Homo sapiens: one gene and its partners. The protein of the gene in region 1 purifies or fractionates together with the protein of each later gene. This does not show direct contact. Each region holds a gene or a part of one and is shown in the gene's direction. Other genes may lie near its edges. The genes, in order: SERPINI2, LEPR and PDIA5.

Region 1 (3,655 bases):
AAAATGCACCTCATCTGTAACGAGACCAAGAAAAAACATTAATTTGTTCATTTTAAAAGCTTATTTGTTACTAGTTTTAAAAGGAAAATGGAAAAAAAAGGATTTAAATAATCAGAGGCCTTTGTGCTTGTGAATGATGATTGTTTTGTTGGAGTCTCCTCATGGACTGTCTGGGATAGTGTCTATCCCTCTTACTGGGATACTGTGCTTTTGTGCTGGCATCCCATTTGAAAGAATTGTTGCTTGGCTGGTGTGGTGGCTCACACATGTAATCTCAGCACTTTGGGAGGCTGAGGCAGGTGGATCACTTGAGGTCAGGAGTTCGAGACCAGGCTGGAAAAATACAAAAATTTGCAAGGCATGGTGGCATGTGCCTATAGTCTCAGCTACTTGAGAGGCTAAGGCAGGAGAAGTGCTTGAACCCAAGAGGCAGAGGTTGCAGTGAGCTGAGATCGTGCCACTGCACTCCAGCCAGGGCAAAAGAACAGACTCCTTCTCCAAAAAAAAAAAAAAAAAAAAAAAAAAAAAGTTGTTGCTCATCTCCTCAGCTATCTCATGCTCTCAGTTTCTATAGTTGTTTTAATTTTCAGCTTTTGGATTACTCTGAGATACTGTGTTCTAAATACAGATTTTTGATTTGGGAATTTAGTTGCTACAACTATAATTTCAGTGTATTTTTCTTATCACAGAGTAGCAGTATTTAGAAATTTGCTTTCCTGAAAATACTATTTACAAGATTTTATTTGCTTCATTTTAAATAAAGACAATTTTATACAGAAAAGACGTTGGTAATAGTGAAGTGAAGTTAATTGTAAGAATTTTTCTTTGCAAATAGTGCACACTGAAGCCAATGTATTCCAGATTTAGTCTTGATTAATTTCAGCAAATCCCAATATACCACTCCCAGAAACGTTTAAACCACATGCTATAGCTTTGAAAAAGTAATACAATATTTGTGAAGATACATAAATTAGAGTCTCTGAAAACTTAAATTACTTTAAATGGATACATGATATAGAGAAACACAGAAGTTTTAACAGGTGTGAATTGTGAACATGATAAAGTAATAGTAATAACGCACTATCAAAAATATAGAAAGGATATCAGCCACTGTTTCATGTGCTTAATATATATTCTCTCATTTAATATTTATAATTACTTTGTTAAGTAAACAACCTTGTAATAAACCTGAGAAAACTGAGGCAAAGAAAGGTTAAATAATTTGCTCAGTGCTAATTCCTAAAATAATTCAGTGAGGATTAAGAATATAAGAGCAATATATTCTCACTAATATATTAATAAGAATATTAATTCTCATATATTATGTAAGGCTCTCAGTGTCCTCAGTTCTCCTTCTTTACTTCATTGTCAAAACATCTGCTCTGAATTTACCTCCTCCATTTTGCTGAACATCTGTTAATACTCCCTTTTGCTTTACCTCTGATAATGCTGATGACGAATCAAAGGCTAAATTCAATGTGCTTCTTTTTTCCACAGGGTTTTGAAAAGAGAACTGGGCATGAATTCCTGTCCCAGTTCTGCAACTAAATGACCTTGTGATTTGGCACAAGTCATGTCACTTGTGAAGCTTCTTAATCTCTCTGGGCCTCAGATTCCTCACTGTAAAAAGAAAAGTTGAGGTTAGGTAATTTATTTGGACCTTTTGGCTGAAATAATCTATAATTCTACGACTACGTTTGTTTTCATCTTTGGATCTCCCATATGCACACAAAATTGGCTTTTAGACTTTTACTAGCAGAAGAGAACATGCACTGAATTTTAGAACATTTTCTGGAGGTCTGGTACAATCAAATCAAGAGCCACATTCACCCATGACCTGTGGGTTATCCATGGCTCTATTTTAGAAAATGAAATAAACTTGTTGTCATTACTTATTAGGAGATATATAATTTTTGATCTGTGCTAAAAATGTCATTAATCTAGAAACGAAATAAAATTTATAGGGCAGATAATGTTATATTCTTCTCCAAACTTGTACTACTTAGTGACATTTTTTTCATTGACTTCTGAGTTCAACAGTTTATCAAAGGGCAGCTGTTTGTCACATAGACTTAGACCTTAAGTACATGACATAAATCTATTTGCTTTGACAAATGATTTGGAACTACTTTTTCTCCCTTTCTCTCTTTTTTTATTCCTTTAAAGATGTTCATGTATTTCAGATTTCTGAAAATTAGTTTCAGATTCTGTCACTTCATTTCTGACCTTAATTAATTCTTTTGGAAAAGCTCTCGTGTCTTTACTCAGAAAGCCTTTTCTGTAGCCTCCCAGCTATTGAGATATTTGTTTCAGGCTTCAGATAGCAATAAATGGTTACATCTGAAATCATTGTACAAATAAGTAAAATGGCTTAACTTTCTTCCCTTCCTTATGTAAGGAATTTCAGGGTTATAAAGAATTACTGAAATTCTTCAGATCTAATCATATGGAAGTAAGTTTTTTTTATATCTGAAATTGTTTATACCTGTATCTATATACCAGTGAACAGAGAATCCTGGAGTTTGAAATATAATGCAGTATACTTCATAGAGCCTCCTGTGAGGCTGTGAGAACGCCAGGCCAAAAAGGCAAGTAGGGACTGAAATGTAGCCTCTGTAACCCAGCTGGACAAGATGAGAGGCCATGGAGCTGCCCAGCCCCCAGAGAGGGAACTATTTTTATTTGCACAAAGATGACCTATGGGCTGCTAGCTTTCTGATTTAAAAAAAAAAATGTATTTACACAAGCTTAGGTACACACACACACACATCCTCCTTATTTCCAGTAGAAATCTAGTAGTAAGTCCCTCTTAGTAATACCCGGTTTTCTTGAATAAAGATTAATTGAATATATCAATTTTAGGTTATGAAAGTGGCATTTGCAGTATTTAACTGAAAATATAATGAAGGCCCAGAAAGAACCTATTTGAAATAGAGTTACAAGACTTAATGATTGAGTTCTAAGATTAAGCCAGAAGGAAATGAAAACTGTTGGTACACTTTTGCAATGAACAGGAAGCTATTGAACCTAATATCAGGGTAGAGTTCTCTCATACGCATATATAGCTTCCAGACAACACTACAGTCAGAACAGTCCAAAAATAAATAATAGGCCGAAAGTGATTCTTTTAGTTGACCCTGACTGACTTATTTTGGCTAGTGGTTAGAGTTAAAATGGTTAAAGATTTTTATTGTTGATGTCGACAGCCAAAGTATATAAATTCATGAACTTGTAGAAATAGGCAATTCTGATTCTTACGCATCTCTAGAGATGATTACAGAGGTTGCCTTGTAAAATTTAAAACCTGTACAGGTGCAGTTGCTTATAAGAGAACAATTTTTTCTTCAGCTGAAATAAAAGTAATATTGAAAAGGATTGCTCATCACTGTCATGCCCCCATCAGCATTCATTAGCATTCCCTTTTCATAGGTATCACATGCTCACGTTATGCAAATAAGATTCTAAACATAAATTTCAATAACTAAAAATGCGCTAAATGTGACTATCAAGAGGGACTTTCCTTCAGCTTCTATAAATGCATATTCTTTTTTTTGACAAATTTCAAATTTGCATGGACATTCTTTTTTCTATATAAAAGATGATTTCTCTACAAAATGCATATTCTACAGGAGATACATCCTTAAAATATTTATAC
Region 2 (3,655 bases), on another chromosome or scaffold:
ATAAATTGGTGATTCTTGAAAAATATTCACACCTGAGATTAAAAAATTGTAATTTGTTTTTACTTCAAATTATCTTTTCTGAAAATCAATCAATTCTGAAAAATTTGTATTTTAACTCTTGAATGAAATGCAAGAAAATGTAGTTTATATATATTTTAATTTGACTTAGTTGACTAGAGGAGAATGTGAAAGATTATAAAAGTTTCGTATCATTTGGCTAAAGATTAATGTTTTGGAAAAAAGAGGTAAAAACAGATTATAAGAGATAATATGAATGGTTTTTAGAACTGAGTGAGATTACTTAGGAAATAAATACTTATGGTTAATAAAGGGTAATGTGTTCTAATGAGAAGTAATTTGTGCTTGTTTATTTTTACTCTTCTATGTTTTAAAAAGAATTCAAGGCATCGTCTTATAGTGGTCCCTTTCTTTCTAAAATCATTTTATCTAAAATGATACAACCCTTGATTATATAATAGATTTTTATTTTTAAAAATATCCCATAGTAGTAGTCAAGTAAATATATACTGCTGTTAAACACTGTGTCCCAATTTATATTTTTATTTGTAGTGGAGACTTTCAATTTGTATAACATGCTCATTTATTCTTAAAATATAAATTTTCAACTAGAAAAATAAATCCCTTCTCTCAAATACTGTGATCTGAAGTCTATTCCTAATGCTGCCAGTCTCTTCTTATGTAGCGTTAGGAAAAAAATGTGGCAATTCGTACATTTCTCAAATAGCTGCCTTCATCCTACCTAATATGAGTATTTTAAAATCAGTAGAATTGTTCATGATATGAAATTTTACTTTTATAATCTGTCTTTACATTCTTTTCATGGCATTTTCACATTAGAAAAGGTGTTTATGGAAAACTATTATGTTAAGCCCCATGCCTTGTTTCTCTTATTAACATTTACAGAATAACTATGAAACTACATTTACTTGGGTGAGTTTCTTAACTTCCCTAAGCCTCAATTTCCTTGTCTGTAAAACAGAGAGAATAATAGGACTTACAGTGTTTCTGCGAGAGTTAATGACATATTTCATCTAATTATAATCACATGGTATAATTTCTCCTTGTAAATATTCAATATATGGTTTTTGCTGTCATGATAATGATGCCAACTTTTCGATTTCAAGTGTACTAGTACTGTGCTTCTACTTTGTTCTTATTTTCTACCCCCAGATGACCCCTCACTCCTCATTTTCATTTTTGCCCACGCACCACCATTTATTCACACACACACACACACACACATTCATGATTGTAATTTTGAGAAGACAAGAAAAAGAAGTGGTATAGAAAATAGAAAATGACAGAAGAATATAGATTTTTTAGCTTCTTCTAACTTCCTCACTCCCATCTCTTTGGAAAGAGTAATTGCTACTTCAGCTATTTAAATATAGTATTCAGAGCAAACATTGGCCCAAGAGGTTATTTCAAAGAAGAGGAAAAAGACTTTATGTCAAGTTTGTCCAACCCATGGCCTGGGGCCCCCATGTGGACTAGGATAGCTTTGAATGCAGCCCAACACAAATTTATAAACTGTCTGAAAACATTAGGAGATTTTTTTTGCAACTGGTTTTTTTTTTTTTTTTTGATTCATCAGCTATCGTTAGTATATTTTATGTGTGGCCCAAGACAGTTCTTCTTCCAGTGTGGCCTAGGGAAGCCAAAAGATTGGACACCCCTGCTTTATGGGTTCTGAGGTGGAGTGTTGGCTAGGACTCACTTATAAAATTTTTTTTAAATTTTCTTTTCTGAGAAAATGAGGAATATACATGGTTATATAATTCACATACATATCTGAAATTGGTATTATATTAACTTATATTAATTTGAACTAGAAAATTATATTCACCACTCATTTGTGGTGAAATTTAATTCTTTCTTCAAAGTGTGAGGAATTTGCCTTCCTTGCCATCTCAGGAATGCTCCATGACTACTTTCATCTATATTTTAAATATTCTATCACTAATACATAATGTTTGTTTAATTTTCAAATTATTGTAGGTTCTGTCTCTAACTGGATCATTTTCTTCTTTTTAGAGTATTTATTTCATTTGCATCCCTGCTTAGTGTCTAATGAAATATTTAATAAGAGTTACTGTCAGTTTCTGTGGAAAGATATAGAATTGGGAAAAATTAAAAAATGCCTTTCTAATAAGAATGTCTTTTTTTAGATGGAGTGAAATTGTCTGTATTTTATTTATTTTAATTTAATTTAATTTAATTTTATTTTGTTTTTGAGACAGTCTCCCTCTGTCGCCCAGGCTGCAGTGCAGTGGTACCATCTCCGTTCACTGCAACCTCCGCCTCCCCAGTTCAAGCGATTCTCCTGCCTCAGCCTCCCTAGTAGCCAGGACTACAGATGTGCATTTGTAGAGACAGGGTTTCCCCATGTTGCCCAGGCTGGTCTGGAACTCCTGGGCTCAAGTGATCAGCCCGCCTCAGCCTCCCAAAGTGCTGGGATTACAGGCATGAGCCACCGCACCGGGCCTTCTGCCTGTCTTTTAAACTTGGGGTCCCCAGTCCCTGGGCCACGGACCGGTACCTGTCTGTGGCCTCTTAGGAACCCGGCCACAAAGCGGGAGGTGAGAGAGCAGCATTACCACCTGCGCTCCACCTCCTGTCAGATCAGCGCAGCATTAGATTCTTAGAGGAGCAGAACCCTATTGTGAACTGGGCATGCGCTCCTCATGAGAATCTAATGCCTGGTGATCTGAAGTGGAACAGTTTCATCCCGAAATCCTGAACCATCTCCCATCCCCCATTAGTGGAAAAATTGTCTTCCATGAAACCGGTCCCTGGTGCCAAAAAGGTTGGGGACTGCTGTTTTAAACAACAAATCAGAATTCTCAGATATCTTCTTGTTGCTTTTATTAATGTATACTAATTGACTATTTTTGTATCTTTTAAAGGAGCAGCCTTTACTGTTCTGATATTCCATCTATTCATCCCATATCTGAGCCCAAAGATTGCTATTTGCAGAGTGATGGTTTTTATGAATGCATTTTCCAGCCAATCTTCCTATTATCTGGCTACACAATGTGGATTAGGATCAATCACTCTCTAGGTTCACTTGACTCTCCACCAACATGTGTCCTTCCTGATTCTGTGGGTATGTCAAGCTGCGTTGTGTCTTCATTTGTGTTAGCAGATTTGTATGCAGATTGATGCAGATTTAATGTTATATTTTGCCATTTTCTGATCACATTAGATTTTGAAAAAAAAATTGTTCCTGTTTACAGTGGTATTGAGAAAATCAGCCTTAGGAAGTTTTACAGTTTTGAATTCATTTCAAATTATTTATAGCAGACTTTTTTTAGCAATAGGAATATTTTCTGCACACTATTAGATGAAATACATGGGTCATTATGAATGAATTTTAGTAGTGTTTTTCTAAATAAGGCATTATTTTATGTTTTTGTTCCAATGTAGTTATGAAAACATGTAATATTTGTAATCCAAACGTTTAATTTGAATATTCTGAGGTTCTCAATAATCTGAGTACTCATAACTCAAGCCTTTAATTTGTGAGGCTATGTAGGGCACAGAAGCATTTAAAATAGCTAAATTGAAGTGGAGGAAATAGACAACAATGACATACATTATATTTTAAACATTCTTTTCAAAAAACTTTTGATTT
Region 3 (3,655 bases), about 44 Mb from region 1:
AGCTGCTTTGAGTACAATTGAGAAAATAAAACAGGATATTGGGAGAGGGCATGATAGCATGAGGCGCCTTTGGGATAGGTGGTCAGGGAGGGTCTCCTAGAAGGTGAAATTTGAGTGGAAGCCTGAGTGGCTGATGTAAAGAGGGGTAAGCCGCATACAGACCTGGGGGAAGATGTTGGTATGTATGCTCCAGGTGGGTAGGAAAGAACATGTTCCAGGGCCCTGGGGTAGAAATGAACTTGGTGTGTTGGGAGAAGAGGAGAGCCAGAGGCTGCAGTAGAAGTGACCTGAGTTGAGGTTGAAGGTAGGCAGGACTCAGCTTGTGTGGGGTCTGTAGCCATAATAAGTTTGGATTTGAATCTACCTGTGATAGGAAGCCACTGTAAAGTTTTAAGCAAAGGGATCTGATCTGATTGATGTTTTGAAAATATACCCCGGCTGCCCTTAAATATCAGAAGACAGCAATATCACAGTCACAAAGCAACACAAAATTAAATGCCATAGAAATATCTGAATAAGAAGTATTTTGTAATTAGAAGAGAGACAGATCATTCGATGGGGCTACAGTGAACTGGGAAGACTCAAAGCAGGGGCCAGAACAAAGGTAGGATTGCGAGGGGTTGTCCAGGGTGGATGTTGCCTATCCATCAGAGCAGGGGCTGGGAGGAAGAGGTGGCAGGTGGTGATGGCCCTGGGGGATTTGTCACTTCGTCTTCCAGAGCTACAATTTCTGGCACTGTAAAACGGACCTACTGAGCTGTGTCATGTGTCTGGTGGGGCTGCTGCGATAGAGTGTGGAAGCCCAGCACAGACAGCGAGTGCTTTCCTTATAGAGGTGGGGAATTCTGGGAGCTGAGGCCAAAGCCCAGGAGACAGCCATGTGTGCGAGCTGCGGAAACTGGAGGTCTCCTGGTATTGACCCCAGCTGGCTTCCCATGCCTGTGGCAGACGTTGCAAGTTGGTCACAGCTCCTCTTCCCAGTGAGCGAGTTCTCAGACTCAGCCTCTGTCTCAGGCCCACCGCTGATGGAAGCTGGCAGGTGGAATGAAACCCACTTGCCACCCTGGCAGGGCAGTGGCATCAAAGGCCTGGAGCCTGATAAAGGGATGAAGTAAACCTCCCTACCAGCACACAGTGAATTCTCATCTTCAGGAGTCCTGCCACATCAACAGGGTCACTTTAGAAAGCAACAGTGATTCTCAGTGAATGGCAATGGCTGGCTTTTCTTTGTCTTCCCTCCCCTGATTCCTACTCCAGTCCCACTGTCCATCTTGACCATGGGCCCTGCCAGCAGCTGGCCTAACAGCACCATCCATATCATGGAGGGTATGGGGAGAGTGGTCAAGGGAGCCTCTCTTTCCTGCCTCTCCCACCTCCCTGGAGGCCACCCAGGGCCTCATGCCTGCATTTCCCGAGGCCTCCCAGTGTGTCCTCCACTATGTGCTGCTGGGCTGAGTCAGTCTGTCTCAGGGCAGTGGACCTTTGGGGACTTTGCATGGACCACTCACATCTCTCCAGAGCAGGTTGAACTCTCGGGCGATAGACTCACCGCCACAGGAGAGTCTCTGAGCTTCCTTCTCCTGCAGTTTGTTCATGCAGGGTGAGCCCCCTCACTCTGCCCCAGTCAGGGGAGGTCAGCCTGAAAGCAGGAGAGTGGGGGGCTCACCTTGGACAGGTGCAGGGAGCAGCAGCTTGGGGTTGCCCCCGGGGCAGGGAGATCCCTTTAAGAGCTGTAGAACTTTTTCATCCTGACCGTGGCCCCAAAGGATGGTTTACTCCACTCTATTTTAGTGAGAAGCAAAAAAATAATTTTTTAATCTTAATATACCTCATATTAAGTCAGTAGAACCTTCTGCAGATTATTCCATTTACTCCTGACATGTGGGCCAGTGTGGAAAGACATCTAAGCCTGGGCCCCTGTGCATCAGCTCTCCGTGTTCTTCCGCTTTGCCTCCCATTGGACAGTGATTGGCTTGGAGTCCGGTGGTCTCCTTTGTCCTGGGCTCCTAACCCCAGTTCTGTGAGCAAGTTCAGGTAGTCCAGGATCCCTCTGGAATTGTACATACATGTGGAGTATATGCATCAGTGTGGGGAAGGGGAGGAGAGGCTTTTGTGACAATCTCAAGAATGTCAGTGCCTGGGAGGCACAGACTCCTGCCCCAGCTCTCCCTGGTCCCTCTTGGAGTTCTTCCTCTCACTGCTGAGGTGGGGGTCGCTGCCTAGAGGGAGCGGCCTGCCTGCTGTCCCCACTGGATCGCGGGCTGCACTTGTCCCATTGGGAGCAGGCTCAGGGAAATACAAATAGCACTGCGTGCTTTTATGTTTCAGGTGCATCCTATTAAATGGGCTTTTGCGGTTGCCCCTGGGAATCTGCATGTAATCGGTGTGTAAAATTGTTTCTGAGGGGAAAACAAACAGCCAACTTACCAAAACAACCCTTTTGTGACTGGATTATTTAGGTAACACATGGCTCATGATGATGCTAAATGTTCATTTCTGGAAAGTGATATTCTTGTCATTCAAAATAATGATGACCTTGATACCTCTACAGCTTATGATGGGGGGATCCCAAGTGGGGTCTAGTCAGACCGTGAACTCCCAAAGTCATCTAACCCTATGTGCATTTTTCTGGAAGAAGGGTTTACCACTTTGATCATGATCTCCACAATGTCTGACTGCAGGGGACATTAAGAATATCTGCTGTGGAGAACAAGGCCAGGAACAGCCAGGCTGTCTTGCCCAGCCCAGGGGCAGCCTCTGGGGGGGCCGAGCTCAGCAGTCCCAGAGGAGCCCTTAGGAGCACTTTTGGGGCTATGTGCCTTGCTCAGCCCTGGCAGCGGAATTCTGCACTGCTGAATTGAGCATGGGGACGTCCTCATTTCTCTGAGGCTGCCCCTGCCCTCCTGACTGGGTCCTCTGTCCTCTGTCTCTAACTTGCCCACATGTGTCCTTTCATCTGCCACCTCCAGGAGGTCTTCTCAAGCCCCTGGTCAACCCAGGAGTTGTCTACTAATTATTTAATTAGGTCTCTTCATTGCTGACCAGTAAATATTTATCATGTATCTATTAAATGGTGATCCTTTTGCTTCATGGGGAGGTACAAGGTAAAAAAAAACCTCAGGTCCCACCTTTAGAGAGTCACCATCTGGGGCTGGGCATGGTGGCTCACACCTGTAATCTCAGCACTTTGGGAGGCCAAGGTGGGTGGATCACAGGTCAGGAGATCGAGACCATCCTGGCTAACACAGTGAAACCCCATCTCTACTAAAAATACAAAAAATTAGCTGGGCGTGGTGGCACATGCCTGTAGTCCCAGCTACTCGGGAGGCTGAGGCAGGGGAATCACTTGAACCCAGGAGGCGGAGGTTGCAGTGAGCTGACATCGTGTGCCACTGTACTCCAGCCTGGGTGACAGAGCGAGACTCCATCTCAAAAAAAAAAAAAAAAAAGAGAGGCACTGTCTGGTACCTAGAGCCCAGCATGATGAGTGTGTAGTGTGGGTACAATATGTAATAGGGCTACAAGCAGCTGCCGGCTCCCCTGGGGCTGCCAGGGCAGGTGGAGTGCTCTTCCTCTGGTTCATCCCTTGAAGGCATCATGTGTGCCACTCTATTCCCCTCTGGACCAAAGACCATGGTCCTCTCTGTCATTATGC

Evidence for each region.
Region 2: the proteins of SERPINI2 (region 1) and LEPR purify together in Homo sapiens (affinity purification with mass spectrometry; one large-scale study listed by BioGRID and IntAct). This does not show direct contact.
Region 3: the proteins of SERPINI2 (region 1) and PDIA5 purify together in Homo sapiens (affinity purification with mass spectrometry; one large-scale study listed by BioGRID and IntAct). This does not show direct contact.

Annotation. Positions count from the first base shown.
Region 1 is NC_000003.12:167,467,424-167,471,078, reverse strand, and holds part of SERPINI2 (serpin I2 precursor), read left to right. Parts: exon of another isoform or gene 1-14; intron 15-1,392; exon of another isoform or gene 1,393-1,508; intron 1,509-3,655.
Region 2 is NC_000001.11:65,602,111-65,605,765, forward strand, and holds part of LEPR (leptin receptor isoform 1 precursor), read left to right. Parts: intron 1-2,927; coding exon 2,928-3,127; intron 3,128-3,655. UniProt on the Homo sapiens protein: Receptor for hormone LEP/leptin. On ligand binding, mediates LEP central and peripheral effects through the activation of different signaling pathways such as JAK2/STAT3 and MAPK cascade/FOS.
Region 3 is NC_000003.12:123,139,956-123,143,610, forward strand, and holds part of PDIA5 (protein disulfide-isomerase A5 precursor), read left to right. Parts: intron 1-3,655.